Homo sapiens: one gene and its partners. The protein of the gene in region 3 interacts with the protein of the main gene of each other region in a biochemical or structural test. Each region holds a gene or a part of one and is shown on either strand. Other genes may lie near its edges.

The links. The genes of interacting proteins can lie anywhere in the genome.
Region 1: the proteins of RELB (region 3) and NEK6 form a complex in vitro, tested with the Homo sapiens proteins (one study listed by BioGRID).
Region 2: the proteins of RELB (region 3) and DPF2 form a complex in vitro, tested with the Homo sapiens proteins (one study listed by BioGRID).
Region 4: of the proteins of RELB (region 3) and GSK3B, one has a biochemical effect on the other in vitro, tested with the Homo sapiens proteins (one study listed by BioGRID and IntAct).

Annotation. Positions count from the first base shown.
Region 1 is NC_000009.12:124,344,949-124,348,448, reverse strand, and holds part of NEK6 (serine/threonine-protein kinase Nek6), read right to left. Parts: exon of another isoform or gene 747-3,500; intron 741-746; coding exon 627-740; intron 1-626. UniProt on the Homo sapiens protein: Protein kinase which plays an important role in mitotic cell cycle progression. Required for chromosome segregation at metaphase-anaphase transition, robust mitotic spindle formation and cytokinesis.
Region 2 is NC_000011.10:65,347,352-65,350,851, forward strand, and holds part of DPF2 (zinc finger protein ubi-d4), read left to right. Parts: intron 1-1,498; coding exon 1,499-1,580; intron 1,581-3,500. UniProt on the Homo sapiens protein: Plays an active role in transcriptional regulation by binding modified histones H3 and H4. Is a negative regulator of myeloid differentiation of hematopoietic progenitor cells. Might also have a role in the development and maturation of lymphoid cells.
Region 3 is NC_000019.10:45,007,964-45,011,463, reverse strand, and holds part of RELB (transcription factor RelB), read right to left. Parts: intron 3,007-3,500; exon of another isoform or gene 2,954-3,006; intron 1,651-2,953; coding exon 1,642-1,650; intron 1-1,641.
Region 4 is NC_000003.12:120,087,948-120,091,447, reverse strand, and holds part of GSK3B (glycogen synthase kinase-3 beta), read left to right. Parts: intron 1-3,500. UniProt on the Homo sapiens protein: Constitutively active protein kinase that acts as a negative regulator in the hormonal control of glucose homeostasis, Wnt signaling and regulation of transcription factors and microtubules, by phosphorylating and inactivating glycogen synthase (GYS1 or GYS2), EIF2B, CTNNB1/beta-catenin, APC, AXIN1, DPYSL2/CRMP2, JUN, NFATC1/NFATC, MAPT/TAU and MACF1.

The DNA.
Region 1 (3,500 bases), on a different chromosome or scaffold from region 3:
CCACCAAGGAGATTATTAGTCCCATCTTCAAGGTGACGGAGCCGAGGAATAAGATATTCACACATTCCTAGTAACTGGTACAGCCCCATGCCAGACCCATGGGAGCTGTGTCCACGGCTCCCGCAGCCAGTGTAAAATGTTGACAGTAGAAGCCCAGGGTGTTAAGTCTGTTATATAAGGAGGAAACTGACCGGTCCTCCTGCCGTAGTTTCCTGTCATGGGAGCAGAGTGGCCACCACTGGTGGTATGGGGACGCCAGGCCTGCCACATCCTGCCCCTGTATCAGTTCCCATGTCTGGCACGGCACAGACCCTGTCCTGGGGACCTGCAGCAGAGGGCCTCCCACTGGAGCACCAAGTTGGGAGCTGAACAGGTGGAGATGTGCCAAGGGCCACGTGCCACTGGTTCCTACCTGGGGGTCCCACACTGGAGCTGCGTGGTGAAACCCCTTCTTCAGTGCAATCACCTACTTTCCCCTCTCCAAGTCACTTTTCCAGAAAGCTCCCTTTCTGCACCGTGTAAAGTGAGCCTAACCTCAGCCCCACAGCTGTGGTGTTTTGGAGCGGCCCTCATAAGCCTCGGTGGCCTCCTGGGGCTGGCGAGGCCTCCGGCTCCTGCAAACTCACCTTCTCGGAGTAGTGCTCCCCGGGGAGTGGGGGGTAGTCACACTGCTCGATCTTCTGGCACAGGGAGAAGAGATTCATCTTATCTCCATAGAAGGGGCTCTGGAGGGCTGCCATCTGCAAGGGACGGGAACAACGAAGATAAGCTTTCGGCCTCAAGGCTCAGAAGGACTAGAGAGGAGGAGGCTGCTCCAGATTGTTGGGGCATGGGTTCTCTCTGGTCCCGACCGCGGCGAGTCCAGCAGGACTTCTCCCCCGAATCACCGAGCATGCTGGGGTTCAACAGAGGAGCAGGCGCAACACTACCCTGATTCTGTCACTGGATTAAGTGGGCACGAGGGTTTCGGTGACAAAACTTTCAAGGCAATAAAGAAGGGCAGCTGGACGCTGCAAGCTAATTCCCACCTTGCTCCCACCTCAGCCCGGGGGACCCAGGCTCCATGTGGCAGGTTGCCGAGTGCATGGTCTTATTTCCATAAAACGCGATTTTTCCAAGATGCCTGCAGGGGCAGGTCTCTGTGCCCCACATGTTCAGAGAGCTTTCCTTACCTATGGACTGACATTTTGGGGTGGGGTGGGCCGGAGAAGGGTGAGGCATTTCACTGTGGCTGTTCTTGCCAGCCCCTCGCAGAGCTGCTGCCTGTGGAAGCCAGCTGCCGGTATCAGGGCAGGGGGAGCAGGGGGTTCAGGAGGGAGGGAGGCAGCCTCCTGCCCCTGGATAGAGGTGCGCAGCAGCATGTTGGAGGGAACCTTCAGGGTGGGAGGGAAGCGCCTGGCTCCACAGCCAGCCCTAGCTCTGTCCCGACCCCAGCTCTGCACTCGCTGTGTCTCTGGACTTCAGTTTCCTCATTTGTAAAATGTCCCCACCCACAGGCCTGTGGCGAGGCTTGGGCTGGCACACGGAGGAGGCACCACCAGCAGGGCCAAGACCGCCTTTGATGAGGTGAGGCCTGCGGCACCGGTTCTGCCCTGAAGGCCGGCCACAGCCACGGGGGAGCGAAAGGCCTGTGGGGCGGTGGCCTCCTGTGAGTTCTCAGCTGTCAGGGTGCTGCCAGGCTGCCCCACCACTCAGGGCACTCACAGGGGACTCCTCAAGGGGGTGTGCAGGGGCCACAGTGGCCCTGAGGCGGTGGCGCAGCAGCCCAGCGTGGCACCTGCTGGCCCCATTATGAACCCATAATGGGAAAGAGCTTCTCGTCACTCCAGCTCACTGTGGCTGCCTGCCTCCCGGACCGCCCCCCGAGGCCCAATGCCTCCGGCTAGTGAAGTGCCGTCGGGCGAGTGCCCTCCTGCTGTCTGGCCCCGGTTCCCCCCCGGAGGGGCCACCCTGCTCTGGCTTCTTGGCCAAGGGCTCCTGGGCGCCTACCGAGGGGCCCTGGGATACCTGGGGAACCGTCGCTTGTCCTCGCGCCCCAGAGGCTGAGCGGGGAGGAGTCCTTGGTAGCAGGGTTTGAGGGTGCCCGTCAGCTTGGGTTTCCTGGTCTTGCCCCATTCTGTGTTCGTCCATGAACAGGTCTGGTGACCCCAAGGGCCTGCCTCCTTCAGGAGGGCGTGGAGGAGCTTCAGAGCCTGGCACCATCCTTGGGTTTGCAGATGGCCTTTGGGGAAGCTGCTGAGTGCAGCCTGGAGACTGTGGGCTTTCCTCAGCCCCAGGTTCAGCACCCTCGGGACCAGGAGCCCAGGCCAGGCCAAGTGCCTTCAGGTGGGTGTTTAGGGACAGCATCACCTCTGTCTTCCGGCTGGCTGGGAGCTTGGGCCCCTCAGAGAAGGGCTGGGAACCCATGTGGAGCCTGAAACCCACCCTTGGAGGAGGGCTGCAGGGAGGGTCTGGCCAGGCAGGGGAAGTGTGAGGATGCAGAGGCCCTGCCCATTTTGGGGTCTGCTGACCTGACCAGGAGCGGGCTGGGAGCCTGCCAAATGCACCACCCAGGTGACGCATGTCCAGGAATTAAAATGAGACTCTCGGGTGCAAAGGGTTAATCGGGCATTTTCAAAGGACATCTGTTGCCATAACAGAGAGCAGCTGAGACTCCAGGACGGTCACCTGGGGTGATCTGGGTGCCCCCGAGTTGCAGCTGGAGGATTAAGGTGGATTTTCCTGGACTGTTACTGTGCAGCGTAGAAGGGACATTTTGAGTGTTGGTCCTGTGAACGCAGGCCCTGGTTTTTCATGTGGCTGACCCCGGAGAGGAATCAGCCGATCTTCAACTTCAGATCATGCCCATTTGATCTCAATTTTATAAACCTCGCTGCTGGGAACTCCAAAGGCCCCAGAACGCTGAGGGGAGCATTGAGCCCCCAAGCTGGCATCCACTTCCCATCATGTCTCTGCTCTTTCCAGCACTTTCTCCACATCGTTTCAGAAAAGCCTTTTGAATGGGGTCAGCAGTGAGCTATGCCAGAGGACCCCTCTCGGCCTTCCCCAGGAACAGGCCTCCTCCATCCGCCCCAGCCTGCCCCCACTCTGCTGCCGGCCATGGGCCTTCCACCCTCATCAGGGCAATGGGCTGTGAAGAAAGCTCTGGGCTGCGCGGATTACAACGATTACCCTGGACGGCGAGATCTCCTTCTACCAGTGACCACCCAGACTCTGACTGGTCGAAATAGAGAGGACTCACTGTCTGGGGCCTCGTTAGAACTGCCGAGGCCACGGCTCTCAGCGCTGCTCCTCAAATGCCAAGCCCTTCTCTCTGGTGTCATCAGGGTGACATATAGCCGAGGAAAAGGGGGTGGGTGGGCCCTGGCCCCCACCAGGAGGGCTCAGAGAAGCTGGTGTGTGATCTGAGATGTCAGAGGGACAAGGGGAATCTGACTCCTGCCTGTCAGGGCCTCAGACACCCATCTTGTCACCCAGTGTCTCTCGAGCACATCCCAGAC
Region 2 (3,500 bases), on a different chromosome or scaffold from region 3:
GACAGAGTCTCTCTGTCATCCAGGCTGGAGTGCAGTGACGCGATCTTAGCTCACTAAAACCTTTCCCTTCAGGCTCAAGCAGTACAATCCTCCCACCTCAGCCTCCCGGGTAGCTGGGACCACAGATGCACACCACCATGTCTGGCTACTTTTTTATATTTTTGGTAGAGACAGGGTCTTGCCATATTGCTGAGCTGGTCTCAAACTCCTGAGCTCAAGCAGTCCTCCCACCTTGGCCTCTCAAAGTGCTGGGATTACAGGCATGAACCCACCATGTCTGGCCTTGTCTTATATTTTATTTTATATTTATTTATTTATTTCAAGATGGAGTTTTACTCTTGTCATCCAGGCTGGAGTACAATGGCGCAATCTCGGCTCACTGCAACCTCTGCCTCCCAGGTTCAAGCAATTCTCCTGTCTCAGCCTCCCAGGTAGCTGGGATTACAGGCGCCCGCCACCACGCCTGGCTAATTTTTAGTAGAGACGGGGTTTCACCATGTTGGCCAAGCTAGTTTTCAACTCCTGACCTCAGGTGATCCACCTGCCTCAGCCTCCCAAAATGCTGGTATTACAGGTGTGAGCCACCGTGCTTGGCCCTTGTCTTATATTTTAAAAAGATGACTTTGGGTGCCGTGTGGAGGGTAGACTGTAGGGACAAGGATGGAGGCTCATGCCTGTAATCCTAACACTTGAGAGGCTGAGGCGGGAGGATCACTTGAGCCCAGGAATTCAAGACCAGCCTGAGCAACATAGGGAGATCCTGTCTCCACAAAAAAAATAAACACTTAGCCAGGTGTGGTGGCACACACGTTAGTCCCAGCTACTTGGCAGGCTGAGGTGGGAGGATTGCTTGAACCCAGGAGTTTGAGGCTGCAGTGAGCCATGATCACACCACCGCACTCTAGCCTGGGCAACAAAGCAAGACCTTGTCTCAAAAAGAAATAGTCACTGGGCACGGCGTCTCACACCTGTAATCCAAGCACTTTGGGAGGCTGAGGTGGGAGGATTGCTTGAGCCTGGGATTTCAGGACCAGCCTGGGCAACGTAAGGAGATCTTGTCTCTCCAAAAACATTGAAAAATTAGCTAGGTGTGGTGGTGTGTGCCTATAGTCCCAGCTACTTGAGAGGCTGAGGTAGGAGGATCACTTGGGCCCAGGAGGTCAAGGCTGCAGTGAGCCGTGATTGCACCACTGCACTCCAGCCTGAGTGACAGCAATACCCTGTCTCAAAAAAATATACCATAGAGCTTGGGCTTTAGGGAAAAAAAAAAAAAAAAAAAAGTGGAGGTGATTTGATCAATTAGGAGCTCTGAAAGGACCCAAGTGAGAAATGACAGTGACTGGATCTGCGGTGGAGAGGGGCAGCATGGTTTCCCACATAAGATTCTCACATCTGTTCTTACCTGCTACCTACCCCTCTTGGAAATAGCAGTGTCCTGTAGTGGCCTGAGGCACATCAGTTATTCAGTCCCCATCCTCTTCCCTCTTGCCTACTTCAGGACCAGTTGCTCTTCTGTGATGACTGCGATCGTGGCTACCACATGTACTGTCTCACCCCGTCCATGTCTGAGCCCCCTGAAGGTAAGTTGCCCAGATCTTTTACTCAGAACAATTACTTTATTAGTTACTTGGAAAATACTGAGTTCTATGTTCTTTATGTTATCACTTACATATTCTTCCAAATTAGGGAGTAAAGCACCTTGCCTTGGCTCAGTTTAGAATGCCTTCCTAACATTTCAACTTAAAGGGTTTAGTGTTTGCACATTATCAGCTACATTTACAACAGAAAATCAACAGCCCAGAAGAAAGCAGATGCTGAGCCGAGATCAGGCACCCAGAAGGAATGATTTATTTTCTTCCAACCAGTCCAGAAAACTCAAGTGGTAGATTATCTGATGTGAAACTTCTGCAGTCAACTCTTGAAATTTGATAGATTTGAGCATTTATTTCCTATCCCTTCCCCTTCTGAACTGGGAAGGGACTTGACTTTGGAGCCTGAATGGGTCAGTCTGCTTCTCCGATAACTTACTGTAATAATGGTCCAAATTTATTAAAGCTATTCACTGAAACCAGTGGTGGCACCAAGAATTGGTTGCATCTCCACAAGTCCCCTTCCAGCTGGATTTCTGTACATAAACACCTCCTGTACAGAAATTGAGTAGCAGCTGGGCGCGGTGGCTCAAGCCTGTAATCCCAGCACTTTGGGAGGCCGAGGTGGGCGGATCACGAGGTCAGGACATGGAGACCATCCTGGCTAACACGGTGAAACCCCGTCTCTACTAAAAATACAAAAAAATTAGCCGGCTGTGGTGGCGGGCGCCTGTAGTCCCAGCTACTCAGGAGGCTGAGGCAGGAGAATGGCGTGAACCCGGGAAGCGGAGCTTGCAGTGAACCGAGATCGCACCACTGCACTCCAGCCTGGGCGACAGAGCGAGACTCCATCTCAAAGAAAAAAAAAAAAAAGCCAACAGAAATTCAGTAGCTTACTCAGAACACAAATGCCCAGGAGCTGTTACTGTGCACAAAGGATGTGGGCCAGCATTACAGGCAAGAGAAAGTGTTTCATTGTGTGATGTAAGCTGACTTGTAACATATCGGTCAAACTGCTGTCACCCCTCTAGAGAATGAGGCCCCTGACAATGTCTAAGAGTCCTTTAGCAGCTGTAGGGGAGTACTCAGCTTCTGTCAGGCCCAGTTTATGAATCTGCTTTGGGGAGAAGTCGCATGTTTATGTTTTGTTTTGTTTTGTTTTTTTAAACCATCAAACAGATGATCTATGTTACAGAATGGCTTTCCTATTAAAGTTCTGTGGGACATCGAGGTAGTGGAGAGCTGCAGGCCCGAGTGTCCTCACTGTAGTGTTAAGGCAGCTGAGGGGCAACCCCTAGAAGTATCAGATGTTCTAGGTCAGGGTCAGCAAGCTACAAGCTAAAACCTATGGACCACATCCAGCCACAGCCAGCTTAAATAGCTTGCAAGCTGTTTTGTTTTCTTTTCTTTTCTCTTTTTCTTTTTCTTTCTTTCTTTTTTTTTTTTTTTTTTGAGACAGTGTCTTGTTCTGTTGCCCATGTTGGAGTGGAGTGGCATGATCTCAGCTCACTGCAACCTCTGCTTCCCCGGGCTCAGGTAATCTGGTAATCCTCCCACCTCAGCCTCCTGAGTACCTGGGACTACAGGCATGCCACCACACCCGGCTAATTTTTGTATTTTTAGTAGAGACGGGGTTTTGCCATGGTGCCCAGGCTGGTCTCGAACTCCTGGGCTCAAGTGATCCACCCACCTCAGCTTCCCAAAGTGCTGGGATTACAGGTGTGAACCACTGCATCTAGCCTGAAGAAAATCCCCTTAAAAATATAAAAACTGGCTGTGCACTGTGGCTCGCATCTGTAATCCCAGCACTTTGGGATCTCTTGAGCCCAGGGGTTCAAGACCAGCCTGGGCAGCATGGCAAAACCCCATCTTTACTAAAAATAGAGAAATTAGCTGGGCGTGGTGCTGTGC
Region 3 (3,500 bases):
TAGGCTGGGCGCGGTGGCTCATGCCTGTAATCCCAGCATTTCGGGAGGCCGAGGCGGGCGGATCATGAGGTCAGGAGATCGAGACCATCCTGGCTAACACAGTGAAACCCTGTCTCTACTAAAAATACAAAAAATTAGCCAGGCATGGTGGCACGTGCCTGTAGTCCCAGCAACTCAGGAGGCTGAGGCAGGAGAATCGCTTGAAACCGTCAGGCGGAGGTTGCAGTGAGCCGAGATTGCGTCACTGCACTCCATCCTGCGCAACAGAGCAAGACTCCATCTCAAAAAATAATAATAATAAATAAATAAATAGGCTGGGCATGGTGGCTCACGCCTGTAATCCCAGCACTTTGGGAGGCCGAGGCAGGCGGATCACCTGAGGTCAGGAGTTTGAGACCTGCCTGGCGAACATGGTGAAACCCCATCTCCACTAAAAATATAAAAATTGGGCATGGTGATGTGTGCCTGCAGTTCCAGCTACTCGGGAGGCAGAGGCAGGAGAATCACTTAAACCTGGGAGGTGGAGGTTGCAGTGAGCCAAGATCATGCCATTGCACTCCAGCCTGGGCAACAAGAGCGAAATTCCATCTCTAAATAAATAGATAAATAAATACAAAAATGAGCCAGGTATGTTGGTGCATGCCTGTACTCCCAGCTACTCGGGAGGCTGAGGCAGGAGAATTGCTTGAACCTGGGAGGTGGAGGTTGCAGTGAGCTGAGACAGCACCACTGCACTCCAGCCTGGGCGACAGAGCGAGACTCTGTCTCAAAAAATAACTTAAATAAATAAATAAGAAAGAACTTGCTCCTCCAACTGCCTGTTCCACACGGTCCCCCATTCAACCCATGCTGGCTGCTTCTCCTCCTGGTCTCAGCTCGTATGTTATCTCTTCAGAAAAGCCTAACCTAATGTGTCTTCTCCAGGCCATCTCTCCCTCGTCCTGTTTATTTCTTTCACAGCTCTCAGCCCAGGCTAACATTATCTTGCTCATCTGTTCATTTTCCTCTGTCTCCCACACCGGGCTATCAGCTCTGCGAGGGCAGGGACTTGGTTTTGTTCATGGCTAAATCCCCAGGGCCTAAAACAGTGTCTGTCTGTACTCACTAGGGGATTAATAACATTATTTTATTTTAATTGGTTTTCTTTTTGAGACACGGTCTTGCTCTGCCGCCCAGGCTGCAGTGCAGTGGTGCAATCATAGCTCACTGCAGCCTCGGCTTCCAAGGCAACCTCCCAGGCTCAGGTGATCCTCCCACTTCAGCCTCCTGAGCAGCTGGGACTACAGGTGCGCACCACCATGCCCGGCTAATTTTTAAAAATTTTGTGTAGAGATGGGGGTCTCACTATGTTACCCAGGCTAGTCCTGAACTCCTGGCCTCAAGCAGTCCTCCTGCCTCTGCCTCCCAAAGTGCCAGGATTACAGGTGTGAGTCACACAGCCCCCGGCGTGCTGAGTGTTTTCCAAGTGTCAAGCACTGCTAAGTACCTTAGGAGCATGACTTCGTTCAAATCCCTCCACAGTCCTGGAAGTCACACAGTGACACCTCTCCCCCACCCCCACTGAACAAGGAAGGCCAAGACCCCCTTCTGTAGGCACTTGGGTCCCTCAGCCTCCCCGCAAACCTGCCCTGTGATACTCACCCAATTCATCTGTGGAAGGAAGAGAAAGAGAAAGAGAAAGGTAAGGTCCAGAAAGTGGTCACAACTTTTCATCTTTTAAGACAGATTCCCCAACCCTGTCCCTCCTGTGACCCTTCCGTCTTCCTCCGTCCTGGGAAACCCTGGGCTCTGACTTGCTGGGGCACTAAACCCCAAACCTCATCTTCTCCTCTGGGCTACCATCCTTTCAACCTCTAATGTTGGGGTCCCAGCATCAGGGTATCCTCCAACTAAGCCAAATGCCTCCCGAAAAACATTTAGACCAGGGATTATGAAGTCTTTTTGGGAACCCATTAGAAAGGGGTCTTAGCACCAGGAAAAAGTGGATGCCCAAATTTCCAAACAAATTGGGGTGTGTTCCCTCCCTGAAGTCCACCCCAGGGTCCTGGAGGTCACTGGCTGGTGTTTAAAGATACAAAGAGGTGGCCAGGCCTGGTGGCTCACGCCTGTAATCCCAGCACTTTGGGAGGCTGAGGTGGGCAGATCACTTGAGGTCAGGAGTTCGAGACCAGCCTGGCCAACATGGCGAAACCCCGTCTCTACTAAAAATACAAAAATTAGCTGGGTATCGTGGTGGGCACCTGTAATCCCAGCTACTCGGGAGGCTGAGGCAGGAGAATCGCTTGAACTCAGGAGGCAGAGGTTGCAGTGAGCTGAGATTGCGTCACTGCACTCCAGCCTGGACAACAGAGCGAGACTGTCTCAAAAACAAACAACAACAACAACAAAAAGATGCAAAGAGGCTGATCTGAACCCAGGCAGCCTCTTGCTCTGTACCCCAGCCCTGTCCTCCCACAGTGACCACCCAAAATCCCAGATTCACCCCTGCTTCCTAAGTGAGGAGGTACAGTAATGCTGGGTCCTCAGGGAAGCCCCTTTTCACCTCCCCAGGAAAGCTCAGCCCTTCACAGAATCGTGGAGGAATCGAAACCGACCTCCCGTCATTCCATAGACAGGACAAGGGGAAGCCCAGAGGCCGCCAGTGAGCCTTAGAATCACACAGCAACGGAAGGCAGCTGCAGCCAGGTGTCCCACCCAGGGCTGCCTGCGCTGGTCTCTGGCTGGGGATTTATAGACGCGAACCTGTTCCGCTGCTAGATCTGTCCTCCTCTGTTCTCAGGGAGTGGCTCCTGGCAGCCAGACCTTTGCCCCTTGAAAGGTAGTTTTCCTGCACCCCTTATCTCATGGGATCTGTGAAGCCAGTAGGGTGCCAAGGTCCCCCCAATTTGGCAGATGGGGATACTGAGGCTGGCAGAGAGGAAGGGACACGCTCTAGGTCAGTGGCAGGGCCAACCTCAAGTCACTTGAACTGGGAAAATCCTTCTTAGGCATCTGTGCTGGATGAACCTGGGGACCCAAAGACAGAGTTAGACTTTGGACCCTCCAGAGGCTCCCGGGCTGTAGGGGGAGACTGAGTCCTGGGCGGCTGTGGCTGGAGCTCTGGGTTCACTGCCTCTGTTCAAATCCTGGCTCTGCAACTTGCTAGTTGTGGGGCCATAAGCCTATTACTTCACCTTTTTGTGCCTTGGCTTCTTCATCTGTAAAATGGGCACAATAATAATGCCTACCTTGTTGGGCTAAGATACTTTTATTTAATATTTTATTTTATTTTATTTTATTTATTTTTATTTTTTTGAGACGGAGTCTTGCTCTGTCACCCAGGCTAGGGTGCAGTGGCACAATCTTGGCTCACTGCAACCTCTGCCTCCTGGGTTCAAGTGATTCTCCTGTCTCAGCCTCCCGAGTAGCTGAGATTACAGGTGCACACCACCACACCCGGCTTTTTTTTTTTTTTTTTTTTTTTGTATTTTTAGCAGAGACGGGGTTTTACTATGTTAGTC
Region 4 (3,500 bases), on a different chromosome or scaffold from region 3:
ACTAACTAAGGATGGAGTAACTCTTGTAAAATATATAGATGAAAATGTTTAATTCCGATTACCATATAGGTCAATTTAGAATTTTAAAAGTTGGAGTTTAGTGTTAATTATGTGTTTTTGACAGCTTTGACTTTAAAAGCATTTAAAAGAAAGGGGAGTCTTTAAGCATTTGTTAGGATGCTAGCATTCTAAGGAACCCCTGTTGAAAACAGACATAAGAAATTGTAGTCCTTGCTCTCAAAAGCTTATCCTTTAGTTGTAGAGGGAGGCTATGGGGAAAAAAAAATTAAAACAATAGCGTGATGACTGCAAGATTGTAAAATACAAATTGAATCATTTGTTCAGAGTGGCAAAGAGTAAAGGGGTGAGACTGATGGTTGGGAGAGGAAAGACTTCCTGCGGACAAGGTGTATTAGGACTGATGTTAAAGGAGGTGGTAACTTGAACTGGTAGAAAAGCATGAAAGGTCTAGGTGGAAGGAGTGTACCAAGGAACAATGATGGTGAGTTTTGCATGAGAGACAATAATCAAGTTGACAAATCTGAATTAAAGGGGCCTAAATAAGAACATAAGAACAGATGGAATTTGAGAAATAAGAGAAAGTTAGCTGATGGAGGGCAGAGGGGTTCTGTACAAGTTTGATTGAGATTCAGAAGAGATCTGGATTTATTGTTGGTTGCTGAATAAGACGTAAGATGATTTTTGCAGTTGAATTAGTGAATTATAGTAGAGAGATGCTAGAGCCTTTTTAGGGAGCTAGTAGGGTATGTTGTGAATCATGAGGGAATAAAGTAAAATGTGAAAGTGGGGTGAAAGGAACAGGTTTGAGAGACAGTGTGAATGAAGAACTGGCAGAACTTCATACTGGACTGAAGTGGAATATTTGTGAAGGAGTCAAGAGTTAAAAATAAATTCTGATGTTACTGGCCTGGAAGACTTGACTGCTAAGTTATATTGTTAATTGTAATGGGAAAATTGAGAAAGTGCTGAGGTGAGAGGGTAGGTGAGTTCACTTTCTTAAAATTTAATATACAATAAGTTCCCTTGAAATTCAGACAGCAGTTAGTTACTGGCAATGATATTTGACTTCCTAGTCTATTAATTGCACAGTTTCTAATTTTTCTACACCTAAAGATGTTGGATTTATATTCGGGAGCAGTAAACTAAGGGCTTTTATTTAAATGCTTCTCATCAAAGTCCTAATTTTTTTTTTTTTTATATACAGCTTCAAAAGCCTCACACTTGAAACCTGGTTATAATAGTTTCATGATGGCTTATTTCAGATCAATGAAAATACTTTTGGGACTAAACTGTGACTGTAACATTTTAGATATGTAGCCATTAATCTTTGATATATGCTTAAAACTTGTTTTTTATAAATAATGATTATTACTATTATTTTAAATGCAAAATTTATCTAAGAATAAAGTATTGAGAGCCTTCACTTTGTGAAGACTCCAGAAGAAATTAAAAGTTGATTTTATAACAAGTATTTTTTGCCCTTTTTGTTGAGTTTAGGCATTAATCCCAAATTTAAATCAGTATATTTGAAATACTACTTTTTACTTGCTATAGTGAAACCAATGTTTCATTTTTGTTCACTTCCAAGTTTACATGTAATTAAATAAATGTTTATAAAGTTTTTCTTTAGAATCACATGATATTTTACTCCATAGGGAAAGTAAGGGACTGTTTGTGGCACTTTTGGTTAAAATATTAGTAATCCTTTTGGTATATACAATTGGAGAAAATTTAGCTAGTTGTTTAGGTTTAATACTTAAATATAAGATTTAGAAATATGAAAATAAGTCTGTATCACTTAAGTTGTTTCCTCATATAAAACTTTTTTAGATCAAAATTTCTATTAGCAAAGAGAGAATAATAGTAGCTGCATATTATTCTGCAGTATTACGTCGTATGGTGATTAAAGCCAAAGAGTAGGTAGCAACTTAGAGTTTCCGTATTCCCCTGGGAAGTTTAATCTCTTTATGACATCTAAAAATTAGGTTATTAGAGTTTAGTCCATTTCTTGATAATCCTGTGTTAATGTGGAAAAGAGTTCATGTGTGAGACTGAAAACCAGAACTTTATTTTCAGTCATTTCCCAACCCGACTTCCCCAGAGTTGTTAAAACGTTTAAGATATTTAAGAATTGCATGCTTTCTTGTTGCATGCACCTGTAGAATGCTAATTGTGAAGTGACAGTAAGTCACAGGCAAAAGGAAAAACTTCAAGGGAACCCAGTGATTCACAAATCACCTTATGGCTGATTGGGAACTGCATTTAGAAAATGAGGTGACATCTTCTCATTTCACTGGCAAAGTTCAGCTGAAAATCAGTACTTGCACGCTTTACTGTGTAGCCCTTATATTAGAATTGAGTTGCAGGTGTGAGATAATATTTTGGAGAAACAGCAAGGCTGGGAAAGTCAGAGATTTTATTCCAGCAGCAGAGTCTAAAGAGTGGGAGAGCTCTATTTGTGTGTGCACTTTATGCATAGAGAAGGCTGTGAAACATGCATATGTTGACCCTATTGTCACAGTTCCATACTTTTAAATAAGACCCATGAAGTTGAGACAGGGTTGGAGATGACAGACAGGATGTGAGATTGTGGTGCTTCTTGTGATGCTCCACCCTATAATGGAGAATGGAGGGGCAGAACGCTTGTGTGGGTGAGACAAGAGTGTGTGTTGGTACTAACAGGACCAACCGGGTTCCCCGGATATTGTTCTTCTAAGAACATAATCACCATAAGTAAATTAATTTGTTGGAATGTTTATCATTTTCTAGCTGATTTTTTGTGTGTGTGTGTGGGGTGGTGGTGGTGGAAGGGGAGTTTTCCCCGATTTCAAGAATAAAAGCATTTTCATTGTTCAGAAGAAGAGCATTTTCATTAAAGCGGAGGTTGCACTCTTGGCATTTTATCTTGAGTTATACAAATCATCCTTGGTTATACAAATCAAATTGCTTTTGAAATTTGTTGAGTGTAATGTATAAATGTATATTTATATAAAAACCTATGTGAATAGAACAGCAAGGAAAAACTGAGTAGAGTTAAAGAAGTTTGTTTTCCCTGAGATTTTCTGCCTTTAAATTTATATAAAAAAGGAATATTCCATTTTACGTTATTGAGTTTTCTATTTTTTTAAATGAGCTAATACTCAGTACATAATGGACATTTTTAGTAAATTATTCCAATATACTTGTGTCTGTAATGCATTTGATGTGGTATAAGATTTAGAAACACAATTTAGTTCGGCTGGCACGGTGGCTCACGCCTGTAATCCCAGCACTTTGGGAGGCCGAGGCGGGTGGATCACGAGGTCAGGAGATCAAGACCATCCTGGCCAACGTGGGGAAACCCCGTCTCTACTAAAAATACAAAAATTAGCGGGGGCGTGGTGGTGTGCGTCTGTAGTCCCAGCTACTCAGGAGGCTGAGGCAGGAGAATCGTTTGAACCCATGAGGCGGAGATTGCAGTGAGCTGAGATCGTGCCACT